Regions from separate parts of the Homo sapiens genome. Here region 2 is linked to region 1. Evidence: fine-mapped expression QTL. A gene starts in region 1. The other region holds a variant in brackets. All regions are shown on one strand. Distances are between the middles of the regions.

Evidence for each region.
Region 2: its variant is fine-mapped to the expression of TRIM14 in tibial nerve (GTEx, PIP 0.96).

The regions. Positions count from the first base shown.
Region 1 is chr9:98,115,111-98,123,944 of GRCh38, forward strand. TRIM14 (tripartite motif containing 14) reads right to left here and starts at 4,112. Exons shown (of 6, transcript NM_014788.4): 1 at 3,872-4,112. The coding sequence starts at 4,078. CORO2A (coronin 2A) reads right to left here. Exons shown (of 12, transcript NM_052820.4): 12 at 5,865-8,834. RefSeq lists an enhancer at 3,586-3,635 and a silencer at 3,946-4,045.
Region 2 is chr9:98,085,961-98,094,794 of GRCh38, forward strand. It overlaps TRIM14 (tripartite motif containing 14), which reads right to left. Exons shown (of 6, transcript NM_014788.4): 5 at 5,949-6,041; 6 at 1-2,045. The coding sequence ends at 1,510. Among named protein-coding and RNA genes, the nearest start is that of TRIM14, 29 kb to the right of the region's middle. RefSeq lists enhancers at 973-1,647, 1,648-2,321, 4,692-5,251 and a silencer at 1,731-2,000. The variant G/A (reference allele first, on the strand shown) is at 3,480.

The DNA.
Region 1 (8,834 bases):
ACAGAGTCTTGCTCTGTCACCCAGGCTGGAGTGCAGTGGCATGATCTCGGCTCACTGCAACCTCTGCCTCCTAGGTTCAAGCGATTTTCCTGCCTCAGCCTCCTGAGTAGCTGGGACTACAGGTACATGCCACCACGCTTGGCTAATTTTTCTTTCTGAGGTGGAGTCTTTCTCTGTTGCCCAGGCTGGAGTGCAGTGGCACAATCTTGGCTCACTGCAACCTCTGCCTCGTGGGGTTCAAGCAGTTCTCCTGCCTCAGCCTCCCGAGTAGCTGGGATTACAGGTGCCCACCACCATGCCCAGCTAATTTTTGCATTCTTAGTAGAGATAGGTTTCACCATGTTGGTCATACTGGTCTCGAACTTCTGACCTCGTGATCCACCCACTTTGGCCTCCCAAAGTGCTAGGATTACAGGCGTGAGCCACTGAGCCCAGCACAATTTTTGTATTTTTAGTAAAGATGGGGTTTCACCATGTTGGCCAGGCTGATCTCCAACTCCTGACCTCAACTGATCCGCCCACCACAGCCTCCCAAAGTGCTGGGTTTACAGGCGTGAGCCACCGCACCTGGCTATTTGTGAGTATTCTTATTTTATGACAATATAGTTATTTGCATAAGTTCAATAAGAGTATGTTTTCTTTCATAACAGACCACATTGGAGACACTGGTAATTTTACCAAGGCTTTGACTGAAATGATATATCTTCATATATGATCAGACTGCTTTCAGGAACTGAAGTCAAGTTTACAGAGCCCATAAGAAGACCCTTGGGGGCCAGGCTTGGTGGCTCAGGTCTGTAATCCCAGCACTTTGGGAGGCTGAGGTAGGTGGATCACTTGAGTCCAGGAGTTTGAAACCAGCCTGGGCAACATAGTGAGACCCCGCCTCTATTAAAAAATGTTAACAAGAATAAAATAAAATACAATAAAAGGGGGCCCAGCACTTTGGGACACTGAGGTGGGCAGTTCACTTGAGGTCGGAGTTTTCAAGACCACCCTGGCCAACATGGTGAAGCCACATCTCTACCAACAAATACAAAAATTAGCCAGGAGTGGTGGTGCACACCTGTAGTTCCAGCTACTCAGGAAGCTGAAGTGGGAGAATCACTTGAACCTGGGAGGTGGAGGCTGCAGTGAGCCAAAATTGCACCACCACACTCCAGCCTGGGCAACAGAGTGAGACCCTGTCTCAAAAAAAAAAAAAAAAAAAAATCCTTGGAAAGACTGGACTAGCTTGGTCCTTGTCTACACAGTTCCCTTACAAGGTTCCCGACCTTGTGGTAAGAAAAGAATGTCACTTTCCGACAGGTCTAGGAACCTCAAGATATTTTGGGACCTTGAGAAGAGAATAATTCACCCAATGTGTATGGGTATCACAGGCATAGTCTGATGGTGAATCCTTGGTTTGGCTTTTTAGCTGTAAGGCTTTTAAAAGTCAAATCCAGGCCAGGCGTGGTGTTTCACGCCTATAATCCCAGCACTTTGGAAGGCTGAGGCAAGAGGATCACTTGAGCCCAGGAATTCTAGACCAGCCTGGACAACATGGTGAAACCCCGTCTCTACAAAAAAAATACAAAAAAAAAATTAGCCAGGTGTGGTGGTGCATACCTATAGTCCCAGCTACTTGGGAGGCCAAGGTAGGAGGATTGCTTGACCCTGGGAGGTGGAGGTTGCAGTGAGCCACGATCATGCCATTGCACTCTAGTCTGGGTGACAGAGTGAGACCCTGTGTCTCAAAAAAAAAAAAAAAAAAGTCAAATCCAAAATTCCTTATGAAAGTTCCAATAATGCAAATTATCAGGCCAAGTGTAATATTAAAACTTACTTTGCAAGTAAATTTGTCCTATCAAGACTCATTTTTGGTAAAAACAGGGAACTAGAGAGAGAAAAATTATGTTTCAGAAGAAAATCTTAGCACACCTGTTATGCACACCTGTTATTCCTGTTATTAGATTCCAGCCCTGGCCATTGTTTTTTAGTTTTTATTTTCCTGCAATTTGGACTAAATCCTGAATTATTTCCTGGCTACAACAAGGAAGGTTGTAGAAAAAGTTTTAGAAGCCAATTCCTGGCTTTTAAAGAAGGCTTGGGATTTTCTTCGTGATGTTTTTAGTTGACTCCCCAGTGGAATAGGTTTGGTGTTGTTCTGCCATAGAGATTCTCTGTTTTATTTATTTATTTATTTATTTATTTATTTATTTATTTAAGACAAAGTCTCACTCTGTCATCCAGGCTGGAGTGCGGTGGCGTGATCTCGGCTCATTGCAACCTCCATCTCCCAGGTTCAAGCGATTCTCATGCCTCAGCCTCCTGAGTAGCTGGGATTACAGATGTGTACCACCACACCTGGCTGATTTTCATATTTTTTAATAGAGACGGGGTTTCCCCATGTTGGCCAGGCCTCAAACCCTTGGCCTCATGTGATCCTCCTGCCTCAGCCTCCCAAAGTGCTGGGATTACAGGCATGAGCCACTGTGCCCGACTGCTTATGTCATTTTAATGTAAATTCTTGGTAAACAATTTAGGAACTGCTTCTTCTTTTTTCCTTAAAAACTTATATGTAACTGCTGCTAATCAGAGTGGATAGTCACAGAAATTTGAATCTATGGTCCCAGTTGGCCATCCTCAAGCTTTAGGCTTGGATAAACTCTGTACTTAATCATATTTTCTGAATCTTATTACTTCAAGTTGACAGTAGGTAGTGGGTAGGGGGATGGACAAATGGATGGGTGAGACTCTTGAGCCAGATCTGTGGAAAGCAGCCTTGTTAATTCTGAATAACAGTTTTTCAAGGAGCCATTATTATAATTACAGCCATTTCATACGTTAAAAAAAGGAAGGGTCTGGTGGCAGGGACAGGTCTTGAGCCCACGACTCCACTGGATTGTCCCCCATGATCCCCTTTTCACCTTGGAGTTCCAAGGTTGTCACAGTGTGGTGGTCTGGAGTCATGCAGTACCGGAGAAAGGCTCACGATGGGGCTGAATTCATCACAGAAGACTTCTTGGAGACAAGTGGTAGGATCAACAGCTGTCAGACATGAGGGCCTACCTCACCCAGGCTTCATGAAACCCAGAGAGAGAGAAGGATTTGAGAGAAGCCACAGAAAAAGTCAGCTGGGAAGCTGGAGCAGGAGCCCAGAGCCCCTGGGGCACTGTTAGGATTATGCATGGGTAAGGGTTCCACGGTGACAATGGCCCTGTTGGGGGCATCTGGCTAATGGAGTCCTGGGTTCAAGGCCTGCCCCTGCCTCCAGAGCCTTCCTCTTGTGGCCTATAAAATGGCTGTAATAATAATGGCTCACCCAGGGCTGCTATGAGCAGGAATGGGAGTGTCTGTGTGGCCGGGGAGGGGAGAGGAGGTAGGTAGTGACAGCTGAGGCTGCTCCCAGGGCAGTCAGGCCGTCCTCAGCTCAAAGTTCACAGGCCCTTTCTGTGGACTGCAGATTAAGTAAACCTGAGATGTCTGTGTGGCTTTCTGAGCTACACAGGGCTGTTTATTAAGAGGGAGAGTTTGTACCTCTGTTAACTAAAAGGCAGACTGTCTTCCAGCCCAATGGCAGTGTGGCGGATCGGCCATGGTGGACACGGTCAAGGACATCTGGGTACCAGCCTGGGCTCCCAACCTCTCACTCCTAAACCCACCTTTTCTGAAGCTCAACTGATGGCTTTGGCTCGCCTTTGCCCTTCCTTGGGTCTCAGGCTCCCGCTCTGAACTTTCGGTCGACCGCTTAGACGCCCTCTGGGGCACCTTTGGTTTCCAGGTTGTAACCCGCCACTGGCCACGGCCAGGCACGCCCCCTCCTCGGCCGTTATGCCTGGGCTGGCTCCCCCAACTCCCGCGCGGCGAACCCCGTCCCCATCGTCCCCACCTGCACGTGCACCGCTGCCTCCAGCGCCAGGCCCACAGGGTGGCCACGGTGCGCGCCCAGCACCGGGCAAAGCGCGCACACGCAGCGGCGGCAGCGGCGACAGAAGAGCTCAGCCACGCGGTCGCCATGCTCCGGGCAGCGCCAGCCGCATCCCTCGACAAGCTCCGACCTCCCAGGGGTCCGGCTCCCGGTCGCCGCGCCCGCCATTCATCTCCACCTCCTCCGGCTCCCCGGGACACAGGGCGGGGCTCCCAAGGGAAACCGAAACCTCGGCCGTGGGCGGGGCGGCTCCAGGCCGGCCGGCCGACCCCTAGGAGGATGACAGCCCGCCGGGAGCAGCGTCGGGCCTCGGAGCATCCTCCGACCAGCAGGGTGCTCCCTCTGCCCGCCCAGGCCGGGAGGTGGTCCCACCAGAAATGGGAAGCTCCTAATGAGCCAGCTAGGAGAGGGTGGGCTTCCTGCTTAATGACGCTGTTCCAGTAACGCCCAGAAAACTGCAGCCCTGATGATGGGACCAAAGTTGGCTGTGACCTTCCGGGGGTGCTCCTCTCACTTTCCCTTGATCCTCTCTTGCCCTTTTCCCCGGAAAGATAATCATTCCCACAACTGTAAGATACCTTCATCAACCTCAAATAAGGACACAGAGATTCTCCAATTGAGTTTATTTCGGACTGAGCAGAAGGATTGCAATTCGGGAATAAATGTGCCATGGCACCCAAGGGGTGGGGACGCGGAGTACTCAGGGAGGCAAAGGAAAGCAGAGGCTTTTAAAGGCAAAACGAGGAGGATTGCATATACTGTTTTTTTTGTTTGTTTGTTTGTTTTTGTTTTTTTTTTTTTTTTTTTTTTTTGGAGACGGAGTCTCGGTCTGTCGCCCAGGCTGGAGTGCAGTGGCGCCATCTCTGCTCACTGCAAGCTCCGCCTCCCGGGTTCACGCCATTCTCCTGCTTCAGCCTCCCGAGTAGCTGGAACTACAGGCGCCCGCCACCACGCCCGGCTAATTTTTTGTATTTTTAGTAGAAAAGGGGTTTCACTGTTTTAGCCAGGATGGTCTCGATCTCCTGACCCCGTGATCTGCCCGCCTCGGCCTCCCAAAGTGCTGGGATTACAGGCGTGATCCACCGCGCCCGGCCAGATCGTTTTAAAATAATAATACTTGGTTACAAGAATTAATACAGGTGGCTTCAGTCCAAAAGTTGAACAGGCAGTTGCTGGGCAGATGTCCTCATATCATGGCTTTTGTGCAAGGTTGTGGTTCTTTGTGCAAGGTTGCAGTTTGGTGGAATCTTTTGCAATAATAGTTCCTGTTACCAGGCAAATCGTTGATGAGGGCCCCCCACTTCATGGCCTCCCAGCACCATTTAGTTTGTTTGAGACAGGATCTCGCTCTGTTGCCCAGGCTGGAGTGCAATAGTGCGATCATAGCTCACTGCAGCCTCTAACTCCTGGGCTCAAGTGATCTTCCCACCTCATCTCTGGAGTAGCTGGGACTACAGGAGCACCATTTAGTTTGGTTTTGATGTAAGTGACTCTGTTTTGGTACTGACAACTTTCACACACACACCACCACCCCAAATTCCAGTTGCCCCCCCAGGCTCAAGTCTAGACTTCCACTTATAAAGCCCTCAGCTCTTTCTTAAGATCCTTGGTCTCCGCCCTGCCTATGCTCCACCCTGTGCTTTTTCAAGACTGGGGGACGTGCAGTTTACCCTGCTTGGAACATTCTTCTTCCCAAATGCCCTTTGCCCTGAGTATTCCAACTTACTCTGCAGGTTTCTACCTTACTATCTTTTCCTCCAGGAAGCCTTCCCTCCTTCTCCTTCCAGAACAGCCTATGCTTTCCCTATCCTGGCCCTCCCCATTCCCGCAGCCATGACTGAAAACTGGAGAGGGCAAAGACTGTCTGTTCTGCCTGTTTTCCAGCTTGGTGTCTGACTCCAAGAGTAGATAGTTAATTGGTATTTGTGGAACAAATCAAGAAAAGGAAAGCTCCTTGTAGTAAAATGGCCAGATGTTTATTATTTTGTTACATTATTTCCATTGCATATTCCACATCTATTTATTTTCACTTTTATTTATTATCATTATTTTTCACAAAGGTACAAGGAATTTCAGAAACAACATTAAAACAATCATTCAAACTGTTTCAGGCACGGTTTCAATTAAAAGCATAGATTTGATTTCTGACTTCCTGTTTCCTTCTATGATACAATCTCAAGTTTTGTTTCAGGAAGCACAATTATTGTAGCGTTAAGGTGGATACCTGCCAAAGCTCATCTCCTAGTGCTGTCCTCATTCTCAGAAAGTTCCTGAGTCAACAGAAAGGGGACGCCCAGGGTATGGAATAAGGAGATGAGAGCATGCTCTGCCAACTGGCTGGGACCTGAATGTGCTAGGCAAGTTCCACTACATCAGCTCAAGAACATAAACAAAAATGTAATTTAAAAAACAGATGGTTTAAAAAAATATCTGATAAAAATTACCTATCCCTCTCCCTTGCTGTGAAATAATTTAAATAATTTATTCTAGATGTAAAAATAATAATACAAAAAAGTTTGTTCAAAGACACCTGTGTCCTGTTTGTTAAGTGTGCAGTCTGGGTCCCTTGGGGTGGAGGGAGCTGGCCAAGGAATGGCATTGTGCAGAGGCATACCGGGAAGCTCTCTGGATGCAACCCCACCTCTACCGCTTGGCAGTCAATGACCTTGGCATGATGTTTCTTCACTTCTCTGAGGCTAGGTCTTTGATTCTGAACATGGGGACTGTAATGCCTGCCTGACCTGTGTTAGAACAGCATGTGTCACTGAGTGGAGGTGGGAGGAATTTGTAAACTGTGAAGTGCTAGCCACACAGGTGGGAAAGGTAAGCCTATCCTGTAGAGCTCTGCTGCCCTGACAATGCCTGGGATTTGGCCTTCTTTTCTGGAGCACACTAAGGCAATCTTGGCTAGTGCATCAGACGGGAGTGAGCCCCAGTGACTGAGTAAATGGAGAATAAGACAAGGAACACGAGCATCCGGCCTGTGCAGACATACAAGCAGAATAAACCACAGCTGGGTAAGGGGCAAACAGGGGCACTGAACCCCCATCGTGCTGCAGCTGCGGTTCCCAGAGATGTTGAGGGAGGGCTTGGGGCAACACTTCTGGACTTTTAAGGAGCCACCAGGCAGGACTTAAGAGATCTGGGTTGAGTCCCAGCTCCTGTCTGGAGCTTGCTGTCCTCTTCATCTTTATTGCAAATAGGTACACATGCAGTCTTCCATCTTCACTGTACTGCAGATCACCTGTGGAGCTTATATGACCATACAGGCCCTACTCTGGAGATTCAGCTTCAGTTGGTCTGGAATGTGGCATGGGCATCTGTATTTCCTGCACGCTCCCAAGGGAATTCTAATGTACACAGCTTGGGTTGAAACCTACCAGACTAGGTGGCCTCCTGCAGTCCCCACCTCAGCTCCAGAATCTAATCGCCCTGTGCAATGGAGATCATCTGCCCCTCCTTGGTAAGGAGGGACCAATTTCACTTCTAATCATTCCCAGTCTCTTGGTGGACTATTGTATTGACCACTGAACTTTAGAGTAGGGCTCGGAACACAGATTCACTAAGGAGGGACAAAGAAAAGCTTTCAGGCTAAAAGGGAACTTTGGGACCATCTGGTACTACTTCTTTACCTCGTATAGTCATTTCAGAAGACCTCCTGGTTAGGTGGCCAGAGGCTCTGCTGGCATGTCTCCAGTGATGGGGGCCCCCTACCTCCTGGGGGACTCTTCTGTTAACTAGGGCTGAAATCTGCCCACATCATCCTGCAGGAGGCAGGCTGTGTACCTGAGGGCCTTGGTGGTGGCAGTCAGCAGTCATGGGCACAGTTCTGAAGTCTGCGTCCCTCCATAAGGGACAGCATCTATCCATATCAGGCTGATTCTGGTTGGAAAGGTTGGTTTTGACCACCTGCCTGTGTTGTAGAATTGGGTTGAATGCCTCTGACCCCTTGCCAGTGTCCGTTAGTTTCTGTAGCAAACCCAGATCACCCCACAGGTAGTTTTCTCTTAGGTCAAGGTTTCAGGTGGCAGATCCTGCAGAGAGCAGCTTGTTCCAGGGTACCCCTGGTTCAGATGAAGAAACTGAGACCAGAGAGGGCAGGACTTGCAAGAGGTCACTGAGTAAGCTGGGGCACAGCTGAGGCCAGAAGCAACAGATTTCTACTCTTTGGGCTGAGAACTGCATCAGACCCAAAAGAGCAAAAAGACAGACCCAGAAAAGCAGGATCTCAGCCCAGCCCTGCCATGAAACAAATATCACTTGCCTCTCTCTAGGCCTTAGTTTCCCCAGCTGTAAAATGAGGAACTTGGGTCAAATCACTAGCTTTCAAACTTCTAAAAAAATTTTTTTTTCCTAGCAGAATTGTTTTTCATACTAGCCCAACATATAAAATAGAAGGGAGCTGTCTGGTTGGAATACAGTGTGGGGAAGGGAGACACAGCCTTCCTGCTTAGTCTTCCCCTATTCTCTCTCTCTTTTTTTTTTTTTTTTTGGAGATGGAGTCTCGCTCTGTCACCCAGGCTGCAGTGCAGTCCGCAATCGTGGCTCATAGCAACCTCCACCTCCCAGGTTCAAGCAATTCTCCTATCTCAGCCTCCCGAATAGCAGGGACTACAGACGCTCACCACCACGGCTGGCCAACTTTTTTTTTTTGAGACGGAGTCTCACTCTGTCACCCAGGCTGGAGTGAAGTGGCATGATCTTGGTTCACTGCAACCTCCGCCTCCCAGGCTCAAGCGATTCTCCTGCCTCAGCCTCCCAAATAGCTGGGATTACAGGCATGCACCACCATGCCTGGTTAATTTTTTATTTTTAGTGGAGACGGGGTTTCACCATGTTGGCCAGGCTGGTCTTGAACTCCTGACCTCAGAAGATCCGCCCAGCTTGGCCTCCCAAAGTTCTGGGATTATAGGCGTGAACCACC
Region 2 (8,834 bases), 29 kb before region 1:
CCTTCAGAACGGAGACACAAATCCCTGGAAAGAAGCCTCCCACTCCCTGCTAGCGAAGGTGGCCTCCTGTGAGGGCCTACTGTTTTCTACCTCTGTCACTTCATTCCAGACAGCTGGGCACTCTGGGTTTCCTTGGCAACATCTGGATCTAAGGGTGCTCTTACCCTTTTTGTCCCAAGACAGTTGGGAAACACCACCCCCTTTGGTTGCTTAGCAACTGTCACCTGCTGATTCCTTCCCAAAATCCCCTGAGAAATGAGTAAGCAGGTTGAAAGCTGGGCCTAAGGGCTGGGCCAGGGGACAGGTCAGATGCTTGCCTGGGGGTGGGTGAACGGGGCACACGTCTGGCCCCCCTATATCACCCCGGGGTAACTTTACGCAGCTCTGCTTTCTTTCAGGACCTCAGACTCCCCAGATGAGATCTGGCTGGGTGACCTGTGAGGCCCGCCTAACTCAGCTCTTCTGTTACTCAGTGATAGGCACCTGCTGGTTATTAATTCACTGCTTGGGAGGGAAGGGGCTTTCTGGGAACTTTTCAGGGTGGAGAGAGTATAGGACAAAGCTGCCCTTCCAAAGCCTCCAATTTAGTTGGAAAGACAGGTCCCAGATTTGTGGCTCTGATAGTGAGATTCTTGTTCCTTGGTTAGACTTCCTGGCGCAGGTAAGCCTGCGGAAGACTGAGACAGGTGAAAAGACTTTTCTGCATGAATGTGCTGGCAGCAGAGAGGTGTGGAGGTGGAACTATGCGACACATTTCTGACTGGAGAGTCTCTAAGAAGAGTGGTAGGAGCTAGGTGAGGATAAGTAATTTTGGGCAGACTAGACAAGCCTTGAATGCTAAGGTGAGGCGCTTGTATTTTTTTTTGTTATTTCATGGAAACTCCTGGAAGCCTTTTCATAGCTGAGGGGTTAAGTGAAGTTTTAGGAAGATCACTCTAGTTTTAGGGTGGAAGATGAGGACTGGGAGAGGGTTCAGACCAGGAACTGCTAAGAAGCTCTTGCAGCTTCTGGAGGGAGCTGTGATGTGGACACGCTGAAATCGGTGGGGAGGAAGCGGAAGATTCAAGGGACCTCAAGAGACAGAAGAGTCAGGACTGGATGACTCCCATTCATTCACAAACGTTTACTGTGTGCCTACTATGTGTCAGGTTCCTGTGCTGTACGAGGGAGAAGGTTCCCAGGCTGCGGATGATGTATTCAGGATGCTGAGGGCTTACCTGTGGGGGTATCACTTTGAAGGAACTGGATTAAAGTAGTGTAAGTGATGGTGGGGTGAGGGTGCGGAGGTCTGATGAGAGGGCAGCAGCAGACTTGTTTAGGGCCTGTTTGAAACTAGCCTAGGAGAGGAAACCTTCAAAGCACTGTAGGCGTGATTGGTCGGGGAAAGCTGGGGCAGGGAGAGGGCCCTAAGAAGCAGGCAGTAAGGGGACCAGCCACGCTGATCTAGGTAGATTAGGCGAGACTGGGCAGCTGCGGCGTACCTGGAGGCTGTCACGCCGGTCCTGGCCCCTAGGGCAGCCGGGGGATGCTGATGGCCCCCTCCCAGAGCCGCAGGGCCGGGTAGAGCGGCTCCTGGAACGTGGCGCGGAAGGTATGCAGGTGGCTCATGCCGCCCGTCACGTCGTAGAAGGCGAGGACGCCGGCCTCGTAGTCCAGGAAGACGCCGAGCCGGTCGAGGTCGTCGCGGGGCCGCAGGCGGCTGCGCTGGCCGTCGTGGAAGGCCCAGTACTCAAGGTCGTAGCGCTTGAGGCACCAGGACTGGCGGTTGCAGCCCAGGCGGGCGGCGGCCGAGGCCCCGCGGCGCCGAAGGGAGGCGTAGGCCGCGCCCACCCACCAGCCGGCGCCCGCCTCCTGCACGTCAACCTCCCAGTAGTGGCGGCCGGTGGCGAAGCAGTCACGAGCCAGCACTTGCCAGAGCGCGTCGAACCGCAGCACGGGCACGGGCCCCAGGCTGCCCAGCAGGCCGCAGCGCACCGTCAGGCGATCGGCGGACAGGCGCAGGCGCGCGTGCATCGTGTCAGGATCCAGCGTGGGCGTGCGCGCGTCTGCAGGGGGCGAGACAAGGGACGCACCTGGTGGGCGGGGCCAGCGCGGCGCCCCGCCCCCGGGAACCCACCAACGCACGTGCAAATCACAAAATGCGAAGCGCGGAAATGGCCCAAGGAAGGGGTGACAGACCCCTTTAAACCGCGACTGCCCCTGGGGCGGGGTCTTGGGGAAAGGGGAAGAAGAGATCACTCTGCTGCACATCCCTTATACTGTCTGTATTTTGTGCCGTGAAATTTGTTGCCAATTAATACAAATTTAATTAAAACTAATCCTATCACTGTTAACATTAGGGTGTGTGTACTTCCTATCTTTCCCCTCCCCTTGCTGCTTTATAGCTTTTCTTTTTCTTTTTTTTCTTTTTTTGAAACGGAGTCTCGCTCTGTTGCCCAGGCTGGAGTGCAGTGGCGCGATCTCCGCTCACTGCAAGCTCCGCCTCCCAGGTTCAGGCCATTCTCCTGCCTCAGCCTCCCGAGTAGCTGGGACTACAGGCGCCCACCACCACGCCCGGCTAATTTTTATAGCTTTTCTTAATATTGGTGTCACACCATACATGACGTTAGGTAATCTGCTTTTTAAAATTGATTGATCTACTTGTGAGGCATTTTGACACATCATAATATCCTTTCACAAGAGCATTTTAGTGGAGATTCTAAAATTTTGATGTTTGGACGCATAACTTAGTCCTCCGTTTAAAAAGCTTTTGAAACCACTAATACAATTACATTTTTACGTATCTGATTGCTTCTGTAGAATATACTCCTAAAACAGGAATTGCTGGGTCAATGGGTATTTTTTTAAGGTCTTTGATACATATTGCAAAACTATCCTCCCCAAAGTTTGTAGTGATTTAAACTCTCATTAACATTTCTCTTTGCATTACACCATGTATGTACACATGAAGTTTTTTTTGTTGTTGTTGTTGTTGTTTTTTAAGTCTGGATCACAGGGTATGTGGATATTCAGCTTTCATAAACAAGGCCAAACAGTTTTCCATGGACATTTGGATTGTTTCCGTGTTGCCTATTGTGACTAATGTTGCTATAACTGTAAACGTGTAACAGAGACTGAGTTTTCTAAGAAAAAGAGCATTTTTCTAAGAGAAAGAGAATGAATTATTTTTAAGATTTTCCCCCTTTTTCTCCTGTCTCCCACTTCCTACTTAGCTCTTTATTTTTATTTTTTTTAAGATGGAGTTTCACTCTTGTTGCCCGGGCTGGAGTGCAGTGGTGTGATCTCGACTCACTGCAACCTCGGCCTCCTGGGTTCAAGCGATTCTCCTACCTAAGGCTCCCTAGTAACTAGGATTACAGGCACCTGCCACCACGCCTGGCTAATTTTTGTATTTTCAGTAGAGACAGGGTTTCATCATGTTGGCCAGGCTGGTCTTGATCTCCTGACCTCCGGTGATCCGCCTGCCTCAGCCTCCCAAA[G/A]TGCTGTGGTTACAGGTGTGAGCCACTGTGCCCTGCCTCTACTTAGCTCTTTAGAAATGTAATTATAACCATTACCTTCCCTTCACCAGATAGTCCCTACAGGGCAAACTTATCTACCTACTTAGAGGGTCTAGAACCAGAACTTTCTCCCACCAGGAGATTGCCTTAAGAGACAACAGTCAATTTACAACATAAAGTATGCCTTCAACAGAACTCTTCCACCCGGACAGCATCTCAAGACAACGGCCACATTACAACCTAGTTCTGCCCTCAATGGCACCAGCTCAACCACTTGGTAGAAAACGCATCAAAATGAGTCATATAGACCCCCATCTGCTTGCTCCTTCCCTGCATGCCATTCATACAAAGTCCCCATTTAAAAGCCTCTGCTTTCTGCCCCAAAAGTGAGGCGGTACCGTTAAGGGCAGGAGGAGCCTGTACCTCTTCCCCTAAGCTAATCTTTAGAATAAAACCACTTTCTTTATACCAGACCTCGCTCTTGTTAATTGAACTCTGCAAAGCGTTGAGCAACTGAACCTGTGTTTCGGTCACATAACATTCTTGTGCAGGTCTTTTGATTCACATATGTATGCATTTCTGTTGGATATATGTCTAAGGTGGGAGAAAATGCTGCTCATTATAACCACTTCTATTCAACAATGTTCTAAATGTAGTAGACAGTAACTCAAGGCACGAAAAAGAAGTGAAAGGAAAGAATAAAGATCGGGGAAATGAAAGATTATTATTCATAGGTGACATGCTTATTTACACAAAAACCCAAATAATCTGTAGATAGCTTAGAAGTACTAAGTGAATTTATAACAGCCACTCAGTATGTCAATATACAAAAATGGATAAATCTCATATTGAGTGAAAGAAGCAAAACACAGAAGGGTATAGTGTGAATGATCTACTGAAAGTTCAAAAACAGGTAAAACTAACCTATAGTCCTAGAAGTCTGGAGAGTGGATCCCCTTTGGGGATAGTAAACAAGAAGGCACATGAGGAAGACTTCTGGGGAGTGGAAATTTCCATTTCTTGATCTGAAGGTGGTTACAAAATATGTTTCCTTTTTAAAAAATCATTGAGCTGATTGATCTGCACATTTTTGATTTGTGCACTTTTTTTTTTTTTTTTTTTTTTAAGACGGAGTCTTGCTCTGTTGCCAGGCTGGAGTGCAGTAGTGCGACCTCGGCTCACTGCAACCTTCGCCTCCCGGGTTCAAGCGATTCTCCTGCCTCAGTCTCCTGAGCAGCTAGGACTACTGGTGCATGCCACCATGCCCAGCTAATTTTTGTATTTTTAGTGGAGACAGGGTTTCACCATGTTGTGCAGGCTGGTCTCGAACTGCTGACCTCAAGTGATCCACCTGCCTTGGGTTCCCAAAGTGCTGGGATTACAGGTGTGAGCCACCGTGCTCGGCCTTTAAATCAGTATGTTAGCCTTTGTATGGAAAATGTAAATTTATTCAGTGCCTCTGTTTTGATATTCACTGTCCCCCTCCCAACACCAGGGGCAGTGATCACCATTCTTTGGTTTCCCTCTGTCTCCTGATGGTTACTTTGCACTTGAATAAACTCTGCTAACTGGATACTGAGCCTTCTTTAGATTGAGTCTTTTTTAGGTTGACACCCAGTAATTCCACTTGAGAAATTACTCCTAAAAAATAATCTGAAAATGAGGTATGGTGTGTTCATTCTCTCATTCATTAATTCAATTCAACAAATGTGTACAAGAATGGATGTTTATTACAGCATTGTTTTAGAAATGAAAATGTAAACATCCAACATTATGAGATTGGCTAAATATGACACATCCATTCAATGCAATGCCATGCAACCTCTAAAAACAATGATAAAAATAAAAAATTAGCTGGGCATGGTGGCACACACTGATAGTCCCAGCTATGAGGGAGGCTGAGGTGGGAAAATCATTTGTGCCCAAGAGGTCGAGGCTGCAGTGAGCCATGACTGCACCACTGCACTCCAGAGCAAGACTCGGTCACACACACACACACACATAGTGATAATATTAGCTGGGCACAGTGGCTCACTGTATAAATCCCAAATATATATATGTTCATAATATATCAGTAAATGAAAACAGATGACAAAACAGTATGTATAGTATGACACCACGTTTGTAACATAAAAAGATATATTAAATATATCATTATATGCATATTAGATGTGCTAAAAAAGCTAAAAGGACAAATAATAATAGCAGTTATTCACAGAAGAGGGATTATGAGTAACTTTTTTCTTTCATTTTCTAATTTTTCTACAATGAACATGTATTGTTTTATTGCCTTTAATAATAAACATTTTTTAAAAAACAAGTTCTTAAAATAAATAAATAAATAAATTCTAATGAGAAAAAAAGAGGGACCTCCATTTCCATGATCCTCCTCCACCCAACATCCCACCATCTCCACCGTCTCCACCCTATCCCCACTCCCGGGGGTCTTACATTTCAGCAATAGCGATCGCTCTGGTGAGGGGCTGGTTTTCAACAAGGTACCTGGCTTGGTGCTGGAAGGGTCTGAGAGCTGGCAGTTTATGCCTGTAAGGAATTGTTGAGAAATGAGCGCCCGGAGCTTATGCAAGCAGACAAATAAGACGTGCTAAAAATACCACACAACTGGAGATTCGCATAATCTCGCCCAAGAGCCAGGCAGATTTAAGGGATTTATGTGAATTCACAGGGACAGGAAAACCCCAGGATGACAAGGCTGGTGTGGGAGAGTCCTAAATAGGAGGAGGAGCTGAGGCGCGAACAACTACTGGATCCAACACTCAAGGATGGGCGGCGACTCAGGGAAGATGTGCAGATTCCAGGGTAAAGATGGAAAACAAGAAAGTAGAGCTGAGTCCTCAGGAAGGTCTGAGTGCTCAGAAAGAAAGAAGGAGGGGAGTCTATCCCAACAAGCGGGCACAGCAGGGGCACCCAGGGCCCTTGGCACTTGCTGTGCCCTCTGCCTGGACAGCCCCCCCACACCCTTCCCCCCTTGCCCAGGTTGCCTCCTTCCCAGCTATTGGGGCCGCAGCTCACTCAGCACCTCCGCAGAAGTGCCTTCCGCCCCCATCACTCCCAGCACTCATCACAGGGGCCTGTAGAGATCTGTGGGAAGCCCACCTGCAGGCTGTTTAAATCAAGTTTTGCCTAAAGCTCCTCCTTACATCTTTTAAGTTCGGCCTACATATTTTTCTGTACGTCATGAACAATAACAAGTGGAGGTGTAAACAGACCGTAGCCTGCACTTGTGCCAATCACCAAGTTTTGGCCAATCAGATGTAGCCAACTGTTCAAATTGTGTTCAAATTAGGCGAACGCCGAGCTGTAACCAATCCAGCTGCTTCTGTACCTCACTTCTGTTTTCTGTACGTCGCTTTCCTTTTTCTGTCCCTAAATCTTCTTCCACCACGTGGCTGTGCTGGAGTCTCTGAGTGCACTGTGGCTCAGAGGGCTGCCGGATTCATGAATCGTTCATTGCTCATTTAAACTCCTTTAAATTTAATTTGGCTGAAGTTGTTCTTTCATCAAGGCAAAAGCCTCTCCCCTCTCCCCAGAACTCTAGAATCATAGGTCCTACTGCCGAGGCGATACCACCACATGGGAAGTCCAACTTCTCAAATCTAACAGGTTCACTTCATTCCCTCCAGTCCTAAATACTCTTTCTCACTTCAGAAAATGACAGTTTCCTTCTGCGAGTTGCCCACGTCCAAATCCTTGGATTCTGATCTCTTTCCTCTCTCCCCTGTGACCCTACGTCCACTCCTGTTGTCCCCATTGCTGCTCCTTCGATATGGCCAGCTCACTCCCATCGCGCCTCAGGACCTCCACCCTTGCTTTTCCCTCTGTCTAGAATACCTCCCCCAGACGTAACAGCAGCAGCAATCATAATCGCCAAGACATACGTGGTGCTTAATATGCCTGAGCGCTATATGTGTAAGAGCTCATTTAATCCTCACAGCAGCCCAGGAGAGGCGACTGCATTATGGTCTCCACTTTACAGATGCAGAAACAGAGGCATGGAAAAGGGAGGAGCCGTGTCTAAGATGGCAGGGTTCAGCAGGGTTCCAAGTGGTAGACCTCGGATAGGAACCCAGGAGGCCTAGCTCCAGAGGCCGTGCCTATGACCACTGTGCTCTCTGGCCCTTCAGACCCACAGAACCTGCAGAATGAATGCTTCCTTTGGGCCACCTTGAGTGTCCCCTTCTCAGAGGCCATCCCAACTGCTTATATAAAACAGCTCCTCCTCCTTGTCACTTTCCTGTCTTCCATCCTGCCCTGGTTTATTATTATTATTATTATTGTTATTTTTGAGACAGAGTCTTGCTCTGTCACCCAGGTTGAAGTACAGTGGCATGATCTCAACTCACTGCAACCTCCACCTCCCGGGTTCAAGCAATTCTCCTGCCTCAGCTTCCCGAGTAGCTGGGATTACAGGTGCATGCCACCATGCCTGGCTAATTTTTGTATTTGTAGTAGAGATGGGGTTTCACCATGTTGGCCAGGCTGGTCTCAAACTCCTGACCTCATCATCCACCCACCTCGGCCTCCCAAAGTGCTGGGATTACAGGCGTGAGCCACCACGCCCGGCCTTTATTATTCTTTATAGCAGTATAGCAGTTCCTGTCACCTGACATGTTTGTGTACGGTCTGTCTTCCCCTACGAAGACTGTGAGCACCAAAAGAGGAGAAGGAGCTTTGTTTTGTGCCCTGCTATGCCTGGCATATAAGAGGGGCTTGATAAATGTTCTGAATGAATCATGATAGCAGAGGTGAATGAATGAATGAATGCATAAATGAATCAAAGAACAGATATTTTTGAGTACATGTTTTGTGCCAGGCCCTGGGGGGACCTCAGAGTTGGACCTAAAGCTGGTTTCTGCCCTTCACGTGCTTACAAGGGGCAAGGAGGGGGGTCCATGTATCCACTTCATGAGCACCCTCTAGCAGGACATGGGCAGGCCCTGGAGCGGGAAGGGAGAGGGGAGATGGCTAAAGGAGAGAGTGAGTCAGGGCTGGGCTGGCAGGAAAGGGCTTCCCAGGTGGGCGCAGCTGTGCCAGTCTGCCTCGAAGGGGTGCCAGGCCTTGGCCCCAGCCAGAGGAAGAGAAGGAGGAAGAGTTGGTCATTCCAGCTGGGAGCCCAGAGCAAGGCTGAGATGTGGCAGGCTCCCAGGAGCAATCTGAGGGGCAGAAGCAGGGCAGTGTGACTGGAGAAGGGCAGGTCTCAGTCTCAGGAAGGGTTGGAGGTGAAGTGGTGAGGGTGGGTTGGGCACCAGGCCCAGGAGCCCCTGACCGCCCAGCCAAGGGCCTCAGTGTGGGAGAGACAGGATGTAGGGAGATGAT